Linked DNA regions of Homo sapiens: all the other regions are linked to region 1. Evidence: fine-mapped expression QTL. A gene starts in region 1. Each other region holds a variant in brackets. All regions are shown on one strand. Distances are between the middles of the regions.

The links.
Region 2: its variant is fine-mapped to the expression of AK8 in anterior cingulate cortex (GTEx, PIP above 0.99). The same link has a PIP of 0.9 or more in amygdala, spinal cord and substantia nigra.
Region 3: its variant is fine-mapped to the expression of AK8 in monocytes after LPS (Quach 2016, PIP 0.95).

Annotation. Positions count from the first base shown.
Region 1 is chr9:132,875,047-132,881,476 of GRCh38, reverse strand. It overlaps AK8 (adenylate kinase 8), which reads left to right and starts at 3,193. Exons shown (of 13, transcript NM_152572.3): 1 at 3,193-3,305; 2 at 6,278-6,362. The coding sequence starts at 3,222. It overlaps SPACA9 (sperm acrosome associated 9), which reads right to left and starts at 2,579. Exons shown (of 4, transcript NM_001316897.2): 1 at 2,463-2,579.
Region 2 is chr9:132,814,859-132,821,288 of GRCh38, reverse strand. All of the region lies in intron 9 of AK8 (adenylate kinase 8), which reads left to right. Among named protein-coding and RNA genes, the nearest start is that of AK8, 60 kb to the left of the region's middle. The variant G/A (reference allele first, on the strand shown) is at 2,536.
Region 3 is chr9:132,785,012-132,791,441 of GRCh38, reverse strand. The region is part of intron 11 of AK8 (adenylate kinase 8); the gene reads left to right. Among named protein-coding and RNA genes, the nearest start is that of AK8, 90 kb to the left of the region's middle. The variant A/G (reference allele first, on the strand shown) is at 3,308.

The DNA.
Region 1 (6,430 bases):
CGTTTTTTAAAGAATGGGTCTTGCTCTTTCACCCAGGCTGGAGTGTGGTGCTGTGATCACGACTCACTGCAATCTTGACCTCCTGGGCTCAAGTGATCCTCCCGCCTCAGCCTCTTGAGTAGCTGGGACCTCAGGTATGTGCCACCATGCCTGACTACCTTTTTTCTTTTTTTTTTTTTCTTCTTTTTTTTCTTTTTTTTTTTTCTTTTTTTTTGTAGAGATGGGGTCTCCCTATGTTGCTCAGGCTGGTCTCGAACTCCTGGGCTCCAGCGATCCTCCCACCTCAGCCTCCCAATGTGCTGGGATTAGAAGCATGAGCTGGCAACATCAGAATTTGTAAAGAAAAGATTGCTGGCTGGGCGCGGTAGCTCACGCCTGTAATCCCAGCACTTTGGGAGGCCGAGGTGGGTGGATCACGAAGTCAGGAGATTGAGACCATCCTGGCCAACACGGTGAAACCCTGTCTGTAATAAAAATACAAAAAAAGTTAGCCGGGCACGGTGGCGGGCGCCTGTAGTCCCAGCTACTCGGGAGGCTGAGGCAGGAGAATGGCGTGAACCTGGGAGGCGGAGCTTGCAGTGAGCCGAGATGGCGCCACTGCACTCCAGCCTGGGCGACAGAGCAAGACTCCATCTCAAAAAAAAAAAAAAAAAAGATAGCTGCACCTTGCCATACTGAGGCCTGAGGCAAAAGGAGAAATCAGTAACACTGAGCCTACCTTTACTTAAATTTTTGACATGTTATTCTAAATGGATTTTAGGCAGCATTATTTTTGATTTTTAAAATATATTGCATTAAAACGTGAAAAACATCCACCTCAATGATTGAATTGCCGGCACTCCCTTAAGTTTTGTGCTGAGGGTGCATCACTTGCCTTGCCCTAATGTTGGCCCAGGGCTTACAAATGACTCAAAGGTGAAGCTCCAGAAAAGTGAGAGAGAGCACATAGGTGGAGTTCCAGGGAGAAAGGGCGTGTGCCCTTTCGGCCTGGCTTTTCCCTCATCATGGTGGGAGCTGTGGTTGGTAGTGGTTGAGAGGAACTGACTCTGTTCTTGATCCTAGCAACTTGTGACATGCACGCCAGGAATGTCATGAGAGGAGCTGTAATAAGCTATCCGAAGTGATCGTCCCTTGAACGAGAGCCACTGCAGCCAAATTAGTGTGGATGAAGGGCACAGGGGACGGGCACTTCTCGATCTGGGGGAGGAGGGAGGAAAAAAATGATTACCCATAGGTTTTAGGCTTTAATTGATTTGTATTTTTCCAGGCTGCTAAAGAAGATTGAATCATGGTAGGAAAAGCGCCTAGGGCTTAAAATAAATGAGGAGAAAGGCAAGTCATTTCAGAAATGTCCAGGAAGCAAAACAAACCTCTCCAGTGCAAATGGCAGGCATGGCTGTTGTGTTCTTTGCTCAGGGGGAGGCAGCTTCCTTTTCTTCCCCAGCTATCTTTACAGTTGGGTTTGACAAGCCTACCAAGGTGTACACACTTTGAGGAAGCGGTTTGGAGGGGAAGAGGCAACAGTGCTGGCTTTTACGTTGGGAGGGCATGTCTCTGGGCTGATGGCTGGTAGAAAAGGGCTTTAGCTGGAGCCTGGATGCAGAGTTCATGCCCTGGCTCTGCCCAATCTAACCAGTGGCCCTAGCCAAGATTTCCCCCTTTTCTGGGCCTCAGTTTATCCATCTGTCAAATGAGAGAGTTTGGATTAGCCTCTTCTTCAAGAGGCCTTCTGGTTCTAAGGCTGTATGATCAACAACTGATGAGAAAAGAAGCCCAGAAAGGGGAAGTGACTCACCCAAAGTTACCCAGCCAACCACTCCTCATTGTTCTAATCCTCCAACTTCTCATCTGTAAAATGGGAATGAAGGTGCCTATTTCACAGGATTGTTGGAACGATTAAATGAGATACTACTACTAATAGTAGCCCCATATATTGTGTGCTTACTGCATGCCAATTACTCTCCAATACATTAGCTCCTGAAATCCTTCAGCAGTTCCCTCTTCACAGGGCAGGAAAGTGAGGCACGGAGCAAGCAGAGAGTTTGCCAAGCTCACACAGTAAGAAGCGGAGCCAGAACTTGAAGCTGGGGCTGTCTGCATTGACTGTGCCATTTTCCCTCTCCATAAGGTACAGAGACAACAGAATTTTGCCGAGAGCACAAAGAGTTCAACAAACTCTTACAGCTCCTACGATTAACGGCAACAGACAAGAGCTAGAGATCCCAATTCAGTGTTGCGACTAATAAAATATCAAGCTGCCCCGTACCACTGGGAATTCATACGACTTAAAAAGCTCCGTCTCCAGCGCGAACCTTCCCCTCGCCCCCACCCCGAGACAGCTGTGCAGGCCCCTCCATCCTCCGGACCCCTCCATCTTTCCATCCTCCACCCCAGCTTCCAGTTTCTGACCCAGAGGCCGGGGTGGGGTCCGAGTGGGCCCACCCACACTCATCCCTGTTTACCCTTGCTTGTCCTAGAGCGCTCTTCGCTCCACGGAGCACCCAGAGAAGTTGGAGTGACTCCGTGAGTGTCGGTGCCCCGGAGGGTGGGGAGGCCCGTTCCAGGACTTGGGAGGCGAGGGTGGGTGGGGACGTCGGGCGAGAAGGGGCGGGGCCGCGGGCGTGATTGTTACCGCCGGTGCCATAGCAATCGGGTCACTTGGCGGCTTGGCCAGAGCCGGGGAGCTGGGAGGGGTCTACCGGGGCTCGACTCTAGGAGTTGGGCTGAGGATTTCCACCCGATCCTCGAACCTCCGGCCCATCTCATGGACGCCCCTCCCCCTTCAAACACCCTCCCCCACATTTATTCCCGCGTCTGTTTTAAAGATGGGTAAACTGAGGCACAGGGAGCCGGGCCGGGGAGCACTGACAGAACCAGAAGCAGGTTCTGCCTCCCGTCCCCTCGGAGGGCCGACTTGCCCCTTCTGGGTTTCGTCGGGGGTCTCAGATACGAGGAGGCCCAGCTGGAAGCCACCTGAGGGTGTCCCCCGCTAAGATGCGCAAATGGGAAAAGCGAGGCCGGGGTTGGGGAAAGAACTTGCCCGAGCCGCAGAGCGCGTCAGCCGGGGAGGTCGGGGCGGGGGCGACCCGCGCGACCGAGGATCGGGTATCTGGGCCCGGCGCGGAGCCTGCAGGGCGGGGCCGCGGCGCGTGCTGATGACGCAGTCGGCGCGGCGGCCCTAGCGACGCGGTTACTAGGGAGCGGCGAGCCGAGACGGCTACATGGACGCCACTATCGCCCCGCACCGTATCCCCCCCGAGATGCCCCAGTACGGGGAGGAGAACCACATCTTCGAGTTGATGCAGGTGACCGGACACCCCTGCCCGTCGCGACGCTGGCGGCGGCTCGGGAGCCTCCACTGCGACGTCGGGTGCGCGGCCGGGACCCGCAGCTGGGGCCGAGTCGCGCGCCCACGAAGCAGCCCAACTCGGGATGTACGATTCGTGTGTCGCCGTGACCCCGAGGGGGCCCTCGAGCTGGGGACGCTCCTGGTCCTGCCCGGGTTTGCCTCAGGCGGACCCAGGGGGAGGAAGGGGGCCACTCGAGCCGGGATTTGGTCCTGGCTGTGCCGCCAGCGGGCCTTATGGTCTGGAACCAGTCCTTTCCTTTTCTCGGTTTCCCCACCTGTGAAATGCCAGGTTGCAAGAGGTGGTCTCCCAGGGGCTCTCCCGGCGCTGACAATTACCATCTGTCGAATTTGTGGGGAGCCTCTCGGCCCAGGTTTCTGAGGTGGGCATTGTCCGAGTTCAAGCTGGCATCTCCATCCTCAGAGAGGGCCGCCTCTGGGACAGCAGCATCTCCCACCTTGGTCCCTCCTCCTCAGGGCCAGACGTCCCCGGCAGCTCCGAAGCTCTCATTCTGGCTCCAGGCCTGACTGGGCCCCCAGCTCACCGTGTGACTTTGGGCGAGGCCCCGTCCCCGCCAGGGCCCCAGTTTTCCCTTTTGCACGTGGTGGAGGTCAAGGCTTTCAGGAGCTGGAGGGGAAGAACTCTCAGCCACTCAAAGGTTCTGAGAGGCAAGGGGAAGCTGGAGCTCAGTTTTCAGATCATTTGTCTGCTTCCCAGGGTACACCCCATCCCCAGGGGCATGGCATGGAGGGCATAGTGGTGTCTGTGGTCATTTGAGGTTCTGCCCTGCACACTAGACAGCTGAGCCCAGACGAAGAAACCCGTGTCTGCACCTCCATCAAACACATTTCCCTCGGAAAGTGTTAACTGATAGAGGGAGAGCAAGAGATTCCTAAAACTGCTTGAGTGGCCAATCACAAATCAAATAGCTAGCTGGGTTAGAAGTCAGCAGGTCAGGGCAGGATGGGGGATCATCTGGAGCCCTGTTGTCTGCTCTAGAGAACCTGGTGTGTTTTCCACATTGATTGTTGGAGGAATTGCCCAGGAAAGCTTTTATTGATTTTGAAACAGGGTCTTGCACTGCTGCCCAGGCTGGAGTGCAGTGATACAATCATGGCTTACTGCAGCCTTGAACTCCTGGGCTCAAGCAATCCTTCTGCCTTAGTCCCTCCAGAGTAGCCGAGACTACAGGTGCAGGCCACCATACCTGGCTAATGTTTTTTTTTTAATTTTAGTACAGACGAGGTCTTGCTATGTTGCCCGGACTGGTCTTGAACTCCTGGGCTCAAACAGTCCTTCTGCCTCGGCCTCCCAACAAGAAAGCTTTCAGTCCAGTATTTCCAGTCCTTAGTCATCTGTGGATTCCCTCCATGTTTTTGACCATTTCCATTTTTTATACTTTTGATTTTAAAATAATGTTAGATTCACAGGAAGTTAAAAAATAGTATGGATTTCTGGTCTCCCCTCCCACATTGCCCCCGTGATAACATCTAACATAACTGTAGCACATTGTCAAAACCAGGAAACTGGCATTGGTACAATAGGATTACCTGAACTGTAGGCCTTGTTTGGATTTCCTCCATTTTTACCTGCATTGATGTTTTTGTTGTGCATACAGTTCTGTGCAGTTGTATCACATGTACAGATTTGCATAACCGCTACTGCACCTCCATTTAAACTAATCACTTGTTTAAATCAACTCACCTTTTAAAAAATTAAATAGCCGCTTTTGCCTCATCCTAAGTGATATCCTTGAAATTATTGATTTGATGTACTTATATTTCTAATACACGTTAAATACACAATGATTTAAACATGAAATGTAAAATATTTATGTGTGAACCATCTAAAATCATCTCATTCCATCATCGCACCAGTGACATACAAACATGAATTCACTCCAGCTGTGCTACTGAACAGGCAGAGAAGCTGAGGCCCAGAGAAGGGAAGGGACTTGCTGATGAGATACAGTGGGGCTGGAACCAAGACTTCTCATGGCTCGGTGCTCTTTCCCTGCCCCACACTCCCTTCACTCCAAGAGGGCTACAGCCCCTCCCTCCTTGTCCCTGGGGCTCAAGGATACCCCTTATTGCAGCAGCACAGCTGCTATGAGCTCCTCCTCATTTCTCTGCCTAGGGTTCTGCAACCCCAGAAGCTGCTTTCTCTTGATATGCTTGCCTGATTGGATGAAATGGCCAGAATATCCCAGGACTATTTAGAAATCTGGCTGGTAACATTCTGTTCCATTCTGGAGAGACACAGTTAGTGGTGACGGTCATGTTCCCCAGCAAACATCTGCGCTGGGCATCTGCTATGACTGCCAGGTATTGGGGTGCCAAGGGCTCTAGGCAGACAAGGAGGCCCACAGAACCCATGGCCTGCCGGGGGGATGGTGGCCTGGTGAGTAGGGACAGGGTGAGGCGTGGAACAGGGCGATGCCCGCAGGCAGGTGCAGGAGCATCTGACATATTTACGTAGTGCACATACTCAGGAAGGTATGTTCCCATTGAGATCTGAGACTGAGCAGAAGTTAGCCAGGATGAGGACAAGGCAGAAGCTTCCAAGCTGAGGGAACAGCATCTGCTAAGGCTCTGAGGGGAATGGTGATGCTTGAGAACTTGGAGAAGGCTGGTCTGGGAAGCTCAAAGGGCCCCAGGGGAGAGAGCCCTGGACTGCCTGCTCTGAATCAGGGGCGAGACTCCTCCACTTCTGCCTCCCCATAGGTGCCTCCGCAGCAGCACCACGTGGCCCCCCTCATGCCTCTGCTCATGGGGACCCAAGCAGATGCCAGCTGGGGCGGTGGCTGGGTCCCAGGTTGAAGGCATGTTTGGTGGGGTGCAGTGGAGAGAGCAGGCCCCATAGCTGGTATCTGTGGTGACCAGGTGCCCTTGCAGGTATTAACCACCTGGGTGTCTGCCCTGCACCCACAGAACATGCTGGAGCAACTCCTGATCCACCAGCCCGAAGATCCCATCCCCTTCATGATCCAGCACTTGCATAGAGACAACGACAATGGTGAGCACTGGCTGGGGCTCTTCCCCTCCTCGTCTTCCCTTCCCCTCCTCCTCCTTCCCCTTCTTCCC
Region 2 (6,430 bases), 60 kb after region 1:
GAAGGGACAGAGTGAGCGTGGAGGGGCACTCGCGGTGGAGGGAGAGTCTGAAAACACGGCAGCAATACTTTAATGCAGTGCAGGGCTTTATGGAAATAATTGTCTCGGTGCTCTGTTTTATGATGCAGACACTCTCATTCAATAAAAGGTTTTTTTTTTTTAATTCAAATTGCGTTCAGCACACCAGCCATGAAGAGATGAAATTACCTGCCTAGATTTTTCCAAAAATGAAAATAGAAAAGCTCATCATGGTTTTTGCTTGTTACCTAAGAGCCATGATGGGGCTCTTTTAGATAATTAAGCATTTGGAGACTATCTCAGAAAGTTCACATTTCTCAAAGGTGTTCTTGATAAATACAAGATGTCATGAGATTTAAGTAAACCCATTTAAGAGACCTAAGGCAGGTAGCCTTGAGATCTCTCTGCAAATGCGTGTCTGAACCCAGAGCTCCAGGTGCTGTCTGCTCCGCTGCGGCCATCCGCTCGCCTGGTTCTAATCTTCACATCTGTGAATCTCTCAGCCAAAGGAAAATATCTCCAAACCAACAAAAAAACAGACAGCCCCCACACTCACTCCCACAAAGTTCATCAGAAGACCTCACTTAGGATGATGGGAGTATATACGGACACGACTTTCTGAAAGGCGAAAGCCACTGTTGGTTAAAGCACTAACTGCGCAAACCCTGTGACCCTGGGATTTAACTCCTAGGAGTTTATTCTGCTCCAACACTCAGATATGTAAGGAGAGATGTGGCAGAAGCATAATGAGAAACAGAGGCAACCTCTAACTCTGTTAATAAGCAGGTTTGTGAAATAAGTTGTGATAAACCCATGTAATGGATTGCGAGGCAGCTGTTAAAAATAAACCTGTAAAGTGATTTGATGTCAGTGATACATGGCTAAATAAGGGAGGGGCAGAAAACAATTTGCTCAGCAGTATCCAGGGGGTGACCTCATTTTTGTTCAAAAAAGCATGTTAGTTTATGCTCAGAAAAAGCATGAAGAAATATCCATACACCAAACTGCTTATCTCGGCAGAGCTGTGGATTATACAATTCAGATTTTTTTTTTTTTTTACAGTGAGCATGAATTCTTTCCTTCCTTCCTTCCTTCCTTCCCTTTGTCTTTTTTTTTTTTTTTTTTTCGGGTCTTACTCTGTCACCCAGGCTGGAATGCAGTGGTGCAGTCATGGCTCACTGCAGCCTCCAACTCCTCAAGTGATCCTCCCGCCTCAGCCTCCCAAGTAGCTGGGACTACAGGTGTATGCCACCATGCTCAGCTAATTTTTTTTTGTAAAGACGGGAATCTCTCTATGTTGCCCAGTCTGGTCTCAAATTCTTGGCCTGAAGCAATCCTCCCACCTCAGCCTCTGGTTTCTTTTTTGACTTGTGTACTATTTAGAATACACCTTGCTTAATTCCCACATATTTGGGGATTTTCCTGATTGCTTTATAGTCTTGATTTCTAATTTAATTCTATTGTGGTAAAAGAACATACCCTATGTGATTTTGATCCTTTGAAATTTGCATATATGGTCTATACTGGTGAATTCCAAGTGTACTTAAAAAAATAGGTATTCTGCATTGTTGGTTATAGTGTTCTATAATATCGATTAGGATAAGATGTTTGAAATTTTTAATCAAATTTTGAAATTCGTCTATGTCCTTAATGATTCTCACTCTACTTATTATGTCAGTTATTGAGAGAGGTGTGTTAAACTCTCCCAACTCTTTTATTTTTAATTTTTTACAATCATCCAGCCCAACATTTAAAAAATCTCCCAACTCTGAATTGTGGATTTGTCTATTCTCTGCAAGTTTTTGCTTCATGTAATTTGTCATTAAGTGCATACTGTCACACCTCAGTATCCATGGGGGATTGGTTCTAGGACCTCCCTTGGATACTGAAATCCGAGGATGTTCCAGTCTCTGATACAAAATGGCGTAGTATTTGCATATAACCTACATACATTCTCCTATACACTTTAAATCATCTCTAGATTACTTATAATACCTAATATAATGTAAATGCTATGCAACAGTTGTTATACTGTATTGTTTAGGGAATACTGACAAGGAAAAAAGACTACATGTTCAGTGCAGACGTAATTTTTACCCCAGATATTTTCAATCTGTGGTTGGTTGAATCCATGAGTGTAGAAACTATGGATATGGAGGGCTGACTGTATACAGTAAGGATAGTTATATGTTATTGGTGAAATGACCCTTTTATTGCTAGGAAATGTTGCTTTTCCTCTCTAGCAATACTCATTTTCTTGAAGTCCACTTTGTCTGATGTTAATGAAGTTTCTCTAACTTTCTTATGATTTGTGTCTGTATGATATACCTTCTATTCTTTTTCTTTTAAACTATCTGTGTCTTATAGTCTAACTATGTGTCTTGTAAACAGCATATAGTTGGGTCTCACTTTTTTTTTTTTAAGAGACGGGGTCTTGCTCTGTTGCCCTGGCTGGAGTACAGTGGTGCAATCATAGCTCGTTGCACCCTCAAACTCCTGGGCTCAAGTGAACCTCCC[G/A]CCTCGGCCTCCCACTGAAGTTACAGGCATGAGCCCTCAAGCCTGGCCTGTTTTTTTGTTTTGTTTTGTTTTCTACTTGTGTCATCTGTTCTTTGTTCCTCCTTTCCTGCCACCTTTTGGATTAACCAAGTATTTTTTAGTAATCCATTTTCTTTCTTCTATTTCCTTTTTAGCCATATCTCTTTGCTTTATTTTGTTAGTGGTTGCTCTAGGGATTAAATATGCATCTTTTGCTTGTCCCAGCCTATTTTGAGTGAATGTTACACCTCACCATGTATGATATCAGAGCCTCGCAGCAGTAGATTTTTCCATTTACCTTACTTCTTTACAGTTGACATACATTTTACTTCTGCGTATGTTATAAACCCTACAATATATTGTAATTATTTTTGTTTTAAATAGTCATTCATCTTTTAAAGAAGTGAAGATATAAGGGGGGAGAGACTTTTATATGTACCCACCTATCAGTACTCTTCACTCCTTGGTTTAGATCCAGGTTTCCATCTGGTATCATTTCCTCTCAGCCTGAAGAACTTCCTTTAACAGCTCTTGTAGTGAAAGTGTGCTGGTGACAAATTTTCTCAGCTTTCATAGCCTGAAAATGATATGATTTCATCTTCATTTTTGAAGGATGTTTTGGCTGCATATAGAAATCTATGTTGACAGTTTCTTTCTCTTAACACTTTAAAGATGTCATTCTATTGTCTTCCGGCTTGCACTTCTTCTGATGAAATCTCAGAGGTTATTTTTACCATTGTTGCCCTGCATGTGAAGCACTCCCCCTGCCCTCAGCTGCTGTTAATATTTTCTCTTTAGCTTTCAGCAATTTGACTACGATGTATCGAAGTGTGACTTACTTTGTGTTTGTTCTGCTTGGATCTCAGAGATTCTTGGGTGTGTGGGCTGAAATTTTTAATCAAATTTTGAAGTTCTCCTGTCATTATCTTCTGAAATCTTTTTTCTGCCTGCCTCTCTTCTTTCTGGAACTACAGTTCCACATATGTTAGACTGTCTGGTATTGTCCTCTAGGTCTCTTAGATTTGGTTCTTTTCTTCCGGTCCTTTCCCATCCCCCTCTTTGCTGCAGTTTGGCTACTTCCTATTGCCTCTTTTATCCTGTCTTTAAATTCACTGATTGCAGCACACCTAGTGATTTGTTTCATTTAAGATACTGTATTTTCCAGGTCCAGAATTTCCATCTGGTTCTTTTTCACAGTTTTCCTTTCTCTGCTGAGATTCTCCATCTGTTCACTCATTTTAACTATCTTTTCCTTTAAGGTTTTAAGTGTACTCATAATAGCTGTTTTAAAGTCCTGGTGTGCTGATTCTGACATGTGTGTCATCCCCGATCTGATTCTCTGGCCTGTTTTCTCTCCTCATAGGAGTCACATTTTCCTGCTTTTTTGCATGTCAAGGAGCTTTTGATTAAATGCTAGACATTGTGTTTCTCACATTTTTGAAGGTCTGGATTGTGTCACCATTCTGCTTTAAGAGTATTGAGTTTGGAGGATTAACTCCATCCTACTGAAGCTTATTTTCAGGCTTTGTTAAGTGGGAGTAGAGTGTTCTTACTCTAGGGCTAGAGTATCCCTGCAGCTAAGGTCTGCCCTTTCTGGAATCTCAGCTGAATGTCCGGGGTGTTCAGCAGGGTCTGTCACTTTGGTTGTCAGAATGCCAGCATCTCCCAGCCCTGTGTGAATTTCCATTCAGTTCACAGCTTCCCAGTAGCTTTTCTCTACCAGGCCTCTGGAGTCTCACCCTGCACATGTGCAGCTTCATATTGGCCAAAGGCTCAGTGAACCCCTATGAGATTTCTGGAACTCCTTCTGTGCACAGCTGCCTCCTCTCCCTTACCCTGTTCTACAAATTCTGGCCGTCTCAGAGCTCCAGTCTTTGTTGCTTCCACCCAGTGAGACTGCTGATCTGTTTGGGCTCCACTTCTCCTGTGCCATGATTTGAGAAGTGCCCATAGGTAGAAATCCAGGATGACTATGGGGCTCGTTTTGTATGTTTCCTGCCTCTCAAGGATTACAGACCTGTCTCTCTGTTGTCCAATGACTCTAAAGAATTGCTTCATAGATTTTGTTCAGTTTCACAGCTTTCTATAAGAGAAGTTAAATATGATACCTGTTACTCCTTCATGGCCAGAACTGGAAGCTAAGCATGGGTTTGATGTCACGCAGACCTGGGTTTGGACCCCAGCTCTGCCCCTTAATGGCTCTGTGACCTAAAGCAGGTTATTTCATCTCTTTGAGCCTCAGTGTCTTTACCTAAGAAACAGCAGGTTATTGTGAGGACCAAATAAAACAAAGCACACTTAGCACAGTGCTTGGCACACAGAATTGTCTCAGTTCTCAGCAGCTTTTTTTTTCTTTTCTTTCTTTTTCTTTTTTTTTTTTTGAGACAAAGTCTCCCTCTGTCACCCAGGCTGGAGTGTAGTGGTGCCAATCTCTGCTCACTACAACCTCCGCCTCCTGGGCTCAAGCAATTCTCCTGCCTCAGCCTCCCAAGTAGCTGGGATTACAGGCTTCCACCACCACACTGGGCTAATTTTTGTATTTTTAGTAGAGACGGAGTTTCACCATATTGGCCAGGCTGGTTTCAAGCTCCTGACCTCAAATGATCCTCCCGCCTTGGCCTCCCAAAGTCCTGGGATTACAGGCATGAGCCACTGCGCCTAGCTCCCAGCAGCCTTTATTCTCACTTATATGTCCTTTGCTGGTGAGGCTGCCAAGCACATTGGATTAAATTAAATGACAACTGCTGTCATTTACATAGTGAATTAAGCATATCATTATTGAGGAATGAATCCCTGGTGATGGTAATTTTGTTAAACATTCATGCTATCCAGTTAACTTTAGGATGTTTTTTGGTCTCCTTAGTATAGGCAGAAAACTTCTTAGCCCTAAAGGTAAGAAAGCCAAAAGCGTGCAGTGAACAATTCATGAAAATATAGTTTAAATCTTCTGGCTTTGGCTAGGAAGGACTTTCACAGCCAAGGAGGAGGTAGCCTGTGTTTATTCACTCATGCTTGTTGCCCAGCACCTCCTTTGTGCCGGCCCTAGCTCAGGGCTCGAGACACAGTGGGGCCAGAGGCAGGTTCCTGCCCAGGGCGAGCAGGTGTCCAGAGCGGGGCAGCCGCCACTGGCCAGGTGACTGCAGCGTGGTACCTTTTTTTCTTTTTCTTTTTCTTTTTTTTTTTGAAACGGAGTCTTGCTCTGTTGCCCAGACTGGAGCGCAGTGACGCGATCTTGGCTCGCTGCAACCTCCACCTCCCAGGTTCAAGTGATTCTCCTGCCTCAGCCTCCCCAGTAGCTGGGATTACAGGTATATGCCACCCACCTGGCTAATTTTTGTATTTTTAGTAGAAACGGATTTTCACCATGTTGGCCAGGCTGGTCTTGAACTCCTGATCTTAAGTGATCTGCCCGCCTCAGCCAAAAAGCTGGGATTACAGCCACATGGTGCCCTTTAATGATGAGTCAGCCCACTTGGAATATGAATCTATCGTATTGTGTGGCCCCACCATCCCATGGAGATGCCCTGCCAGCTGGAAGGGCTGTGGAAGCAACACACTGCACCCCCTCTGCTGTGTAACAAGGGTGCAAATGTGGACGCACTTGAGGCACATCGCCCAGAGATGAGCAGCCCCCGGCCAGAACGCTGATCCTCCGCAGCACCCTGGAGGGCGCCGAGTTCTGCGCAGCAATTCCAGGTGCAGCGAGGCCCTGCAGGGCTCCTCTGTGGGCAACATCCTCGTTAGTGTCTTCCCCACGCCGTCCATTTTTAATGTGTTCTTTGCCAAATGCATTCCTTTTCATTCCACCTCTCTCTTTTATTTATTTCCCGGCTCCTTTTTGATATTTACTTTTACTTGGACACATACCCACACACAG
Region 3 (6,430 bases), 90 kb after region 1:
GATTTTCAAATTGATCTGTGATATGGTTTGGCTCTGTGTTCCCACCCAAATCTCATCTTGAACTATAATCCCCACATGTTAGGGAGGGACCTGGTGAGAGGTGATCGGATCATGGGGGCGGTTTCCTCCATGCTGTTCTCATGATAGTGAATGAGTTCTCACGAGATCTGATGGTTTTAAAGTGTGGCACCTCCCCCTTTGCTCTCTCTCTGTCTCTCTCCTGCTGCCATGTAAGATGTGCCTTGCTTCCCCTTTACCTTTTGCCATGACTGTAAGTTTCCTGAGGCCTCCCCAGCCATGTGGAACTGTGAATCAATTAAACCTCTTTCCTTTATAAATTACCCAGTCTCAAGTAGTTGTTTATAGCAGTGTGAAACGGACTAATACAATCCGTTACAGTTTGACATGGATATATTCTGTCTTTGCTTCTAGTGAAAATATCAACACTTCCTTGGGTCTCGCATTTTTTATTTTATTTCTAGGTATATTATCTCTTGTTCTTCTTACTGATATTATAATAAGATATTTTCATTCCATATTTTCTAAGGGGGTTTTTCAAGAGTATACAAAAGACATTGATTTTGGCTTACTTATTTTATACCCCAGCCACCTTCTCAAACCCTCTTACTGTTTTGGATAGTTTTTCAGTTGATTCTCTTGGGTTTTACAGGTAGATGACCATGTCATCTACAAATACTCATCCTTTTGCCTCTTCCTTTTCAATATTTATACTTTTCATTTTACTCTTGTTGGGCGGTACTTTCAGAACAGGGTGTCATGATCGACACGGTGGTTTTTCCTGACCATAAGGGCTGTCCTGGTACTGCTGACATTAAGGTGCTACTGGCTTTTGGTTTGAAGTGCATACAATTTGTATGAAGTTAAAGAAGTTGGCCGGGCACAGTGGCTCACGCCTGTAATCCCAGCACTTTGGGAGGCCGAGGTGGGTGGATCATGAGGTCAGGAGATCGAGACCATCCTGGCTAACATGGTGAAACCCGTCTCTACTAAAAAATACAAAAAATTAGCTGGACGTGGTGGCGGCCGCCTGTAGTCCCAGCTACTTGGGAGTCTGAGGCAGGAGAATGGTGTGAACCCAGGAGGCGGAGTTTGCAGTGAGCTGAGATCACGCCACTGCGCTCCAGCCTGAGCGACAGAGTGAGACTCCGTCTCAAAAAAAAAAAAAGAAGTATAGCTCCGTGATTTAAAATCTCTAGTTAATGTTTATCAAGAGCTTTTCAGCATCCTTTAAAATTGTTTTTCCTTTTTGACACATTGGTATTATAAATTATGTTAATATTAGTAAGCCAGTCTTTTGTTCCTATAGTAACTGGTTTGGTCATGGCATATTGTTCGTTCATGGAATATTATTCTACTGCTTGTGGCAGATAGAATTTTGACCCTTAGGACCTTTGCCCCCTGCTGTCATGCGTCTGAATATTACATTACATGACAAAAGGGACTTTGCAGATATACTTAAGATTACTAATCAGTTCACCTTAAAATAGAAAGGTCATCCTGGACTATCTGGGTGGGCCCAGAATAATCACACAAACCCTTAAAAGCAGAGTTTCCTCCTGACTGAGGGCAGAAGAGGAAGTCAGAGAGATTTCTAAGCATGACACAGCATTGGTGGCTCAAAGATGGGGGCCGTGGAAAATGTGAGAAGAAATGAATTCAACCAACAGTGAGCCCCAGGTGAGAACTACAGCTCTGGCTGATACCTTGACCTAAGCCCAGTTAGACCCATACCAGATTTCTGACCTACAGAAACTGGGAGATAATAAATTTGAGTATCTTTTTTTCTTTTCTTTCTTTCTTTTTTTTTTTTTTTTTTTTTTTTTGTGAGATGAGTATCACTCTGTCGCCCAGGCTGGAGTGCAGTGGCATGATCTCTGTTCACTGCAACCTCTGCCTCCCAAGTTCAAGTGATTCTCCTGCCTCCTCCTCCTGAGTAGCTGGGATTACAAGTGTGTGCCACCATGTATGGCTAATTTTTGTATTTTTATTAGAGACGGGTTTTACCATGTCGGCCAGGCTGGTCTCGAACTCCTGACCTCAGGTGATCCACCCATCTCAGCCTCCCAAAGTGCTTGGATTACAGGCATGAGCTACTGCACCTAGCCAAATTTGATTATCTTTTTTTTTGAGACAGAGTCTCGCTCTGTCTCCCAGGCTGGAGTGCATGGCGCGATCTTGGCTCACTGTAAGCTCTGCCTCCCGGGTTCACGCCATTCTCCTGCCTCAGCCTCCCAAGTAGCTGGGACTACAGGTGCCTGCCACCACGCCTGGCTAATTTTTTGTATTTTTAGTAGAGACGGGGTTTCACCGTGTTAGCCAGGATGGTCTCGATCTCCTGACTTTGTGATCCACCCACCTCGGCCTCCCAAAGTGCTGGGATTACAGGTGTGAGCCACCGCACCCAGTCCAAATTTGAGTATCTTTAAGCAGCTAAGTTTGTCATAATATGATATTGGCAGCACAAGGAAATTAACATGCTGTTGGATTGTATTGGCTACATTTTTTTTTGCATTAATATGCATCTATAATATGGATTAGAATTTTTCCACATTCTTGTGCTTTGTTAGGCTTTAGTATCAGTGATGTGAAAATTTCGTAGATTTTCTTTCTTTCTCCATATCTGAGAGAGTTTTTAAAACTCAGGCAGTAACTGTTTTTTTGGATCTGGCACTTTGGGGCAGAGGTAGCTTGTTAACAATTTGATTGATTTTGTTCAGGGTGTTTGGTCAATTCGAATTTCTCTCTTTTCTTGTGCAATTGGTCTCTTCTTAGAAAATCACCCCTTTCCCCTGTCTTTAAATATATTAACATAATTTGAATATCTTGTGCCACTAATTTTTATTGTGTTTCCTACAGTTTTGGCTTTATGTGTTTTGGTGCTATGTTATTTAGTGCATAAAGGTTTCTGTCAGCTATGTGTTCATTGTGAAATGTATTCTTGATGAAAGTGACCATCAGTGACAGACAGCTAATTATCTACCCCAACATTTATTCTAACTTTCCTCCTCAATAACAAAAGATCAATTTTCAGAGGAGTACTTTGGTGTCTGAAAATAAAAGATCCCATTTTCCAGTCTTCTTTACAGCTATATGGAGCCACAACACTAAGTTCTGGCTAATGAGATACAAGCATACAATTTTGTGGTTTTTCCAGGAAACCTGCTTTAAGGAATCTAACTCAGCTGGAAGGCGTTAGCTTTTTTTTGTTTTTCCTTTCCTTTCTTTTTGATTTTCCTGAAGTTAATAATCATCTTGCTTTTTCACTTGTCTAGTTTTCTTTGTACCT[A/G]TTAGTTAATTATTTCCACATCTCATAATAGCCTTTCAGAACAATTTCCCACAAAGTCCATCATATTGTGTAATCTGTCAGTTTCAGGTTGTTGTTTTTTTTTTGGTCACTCCCATTCCTCTTCTGTTTGGACTGGTTTTTTTCTAGGCTTACTGCATAGTTGATCATCAGGGGCTTTTCTTTACTATAATCAGAGGAATTCCCCTTGGCTTTCTTTTGAGTTGGAGTCTCTACTTCCTGAGTTACACATCTTCCTTTTATATACCCCCTTGATTTGACAAAGCATAACCTCTAGTTGCTTCCCAAGTTAAAAAGATGATTTAAAAGCAGTGGACTGTTACACCGGAAACACATGTGTTCTAAATTGAAGAAGTCACCCTTTATGCCTGTACACAACAATCATTTTGGGATTGCCTTTCACTACTACACTGAAGATTCTCTTTACCCCTCTCCCATATTCGATATTTTATTTCTATATCACATGGCTTCCTTTTTCTTGGTTTACTACCTTGTTTTGGTTGAACACATCTATCAGTAACTTCCTGAGAAACAGTGTATGGGAGGTAAATTTTGGGGGCCCTACTATTCTATCTGAAAGTGTCTATTCTATCTTCATACTTGTTGGATAGATTGGCTGGGTGAGAAACTATAGGCTGGAAATGATTTTCCCGTGGAATTTTGAATTTCCAGTGTTGCTAAGAAGTCCAATGCCAATCTGATCCTGAGCCTTCATACGTGACTTTTTTCTTTCTGTGGAAGTTTGTAGGCTCTTCCTTTTGTCTCCAGGGTTCTGAAATTTCACAGTGAAATTTCATTATATCCTTGGTATAGGTCAGATTTACTCCACCGTACCAGAAATTAATCTTGAAACCTGTGTCCTTCAGTCCTGGGACATTTTCTTGAATTATTTTGTTAATGATTTTTTCCCCTTTTTTCTATTCTCTCTGAAACTGCTGTTATTTGGGTATTGGATCTTCAGGACTGGGCTTCTAAATGTTGTAAAAATATCTTTTTTCCCTTGTATTTTGTGTGTATGTGTGTGTGTGGTCAGTTGCTGCTTTTTGTTTTGTTTGGCTCTACTTTCTGGGAGATTTCCTCAACTTTCTCTTCCAACATTTTTATTGAATTCTAATTTCTGCTCTTGGGTTTGTTTATTTCTGTAATATTCAAGAGCTTTTTGTTTTCTGAATATTCCTTTTATAGTTTCTTGATCTTATTTCATGGTTTTTTTATCTCTTGAAAATGTTAATGACATATTTGATTTTGTTAGGAGGATGGGGAGATAGGCTTTTTTCCTTTTCCTTTCTGCATAACCAGTTTCTATTGAATTTTTGTTTGTCTTGGTCTTATTCTTTCTCAGCAGAGTCTTTTTTTACCCTTAGATGTTGAATTACCCTTGGTTGTTTGCTCACGTCTAAGAATGGGAGACTAAAAAGCGATTTGGAAGCTCTGAGTGCATGGAAAGAGCCCACAGGTTTAGTCTTCACTGTAGGGTGGTATCATTGGGGTGATAAAATTGGGCCATTTGTGCAGAACCCTCCCACCAAGTGTCAACATCTTTAGATCTTTTCCTCTGGGCTGCTCCGATTCCCCAGAGAGGACTCATGCAGTCTCCTGCTGGAGGGTAAAGGCCTTGCTGCCAGGACCCCCTCTCTGGGGGTCCAGGGGAGAAGCAGGACACTGGGAAGGGCAGGGGAGGGGTCTCACATACTGCATGCAGTTTGCATACTTTTACTTAATTCCCCTGTGTTTACCATAGACTCAGGCTCTCAACTGTGCTTGGCATTCTTCAGCCCAAAGAGCCTGTATTTTATCCTCTCTAGAGAATAAATGTTTAATTTCTTCCCAAGTGGAGGAGAGACATTCACTCAGCTGGGTGGAGTGAGGAAGGGATCTAGGACTCACTCTCTTCTGAAACAAATTTCAACCAAGCCCCCTTATTTTAGCCACCAGTTCCCAGGTGGCACCTGTGCCTGAGCCTTTTGAGGATTTTCTGGGGAAGATGAGGTTGATTCTCAGCTTTCCTACTACTGATTTAGGATTTGGCTTTCTGAGGCCGCCTCAGCTCGTTGCCTCTGGTTCAAGTCTGCTTTCCAGCATCGAAACCTTTGTCTGATTGCCTTCTTCTTCCCTGTTCTTTCTGTCCTTGTAGGTTAGGTTTTCAAAGTGCCTTTCCTATCGTTTTTCTGTGGGATTTGGGGAAGAAACAAAATCTGGTGCGGGTTTCAAGAAGCCATTTTTATCTGGAATTCAAACTCTGATTTCTTTGTTACATTTGCATGTTCCTAAGTTTTACTTTCAACTATTTTGCTTCTCTTATTTTTTGTTGATGACACAACTAAAAAGCTATATGGAAGCTCTGGATGCATGGGTGGAGCCCGTAGATGTTGTCTTCACTGTGGACAGAATGAAATTGGGTTTGATATTTTTTCTTCAATCTGAAATGACTTTTTCCTTGAATAGTTGAGTCTATCCCACTTATTTTTGCTTTTCTTACTTTATTTTGTGCTTCATTATGGTTTCCTTTGTTTTCCATCTTTTCTTTATGGGATGTGTTTTGAGTTTTGTTCTTGTTATTGTTAGCTTCTTACCTGCCCCACTTCCGTTAATTTAGAAGATAATCTGTTTATAGTTCTAATAGTCTCTTCAACACGACTTGATTAAACCTTATTTCTCAGTTTGTTGATTTTGAAATGCAGCAGAATATCTTGACCCCTTCATATGAAAGATGTCGGTTGGGCGTGGTGGCTCACGCCTGTAATCCCAGCACTTTGGGAGGCCGAGGCAGGTGGATCACGAGGTCCAGAGTTCAAGACCTGCCTGGACAATATGGTGGAACCCTGTCTCTACTAAAAATACAAAAATTAGCCGGGCATGGTGGTGGGCGCCTGTAGTCCCAGCTACTCAGGAGGCTGAGGCAGGGAACTGCTTGAACCCGGGAGGCAGAGGTTGCAGTGAGCCGAGAGCACGCCACTGCATTCCAGCCTGGGCGACAGAGCAAGACTCCATCTAAAAAAAAAAAAAAAAAAAGAGTATCCCACATGTACTGCCTCCTCATCCCCCTTCTCCAGCCATTCTCCATTTTGGGGGAGCCAGGGACAGACATATCCTGAAATTTTTCTG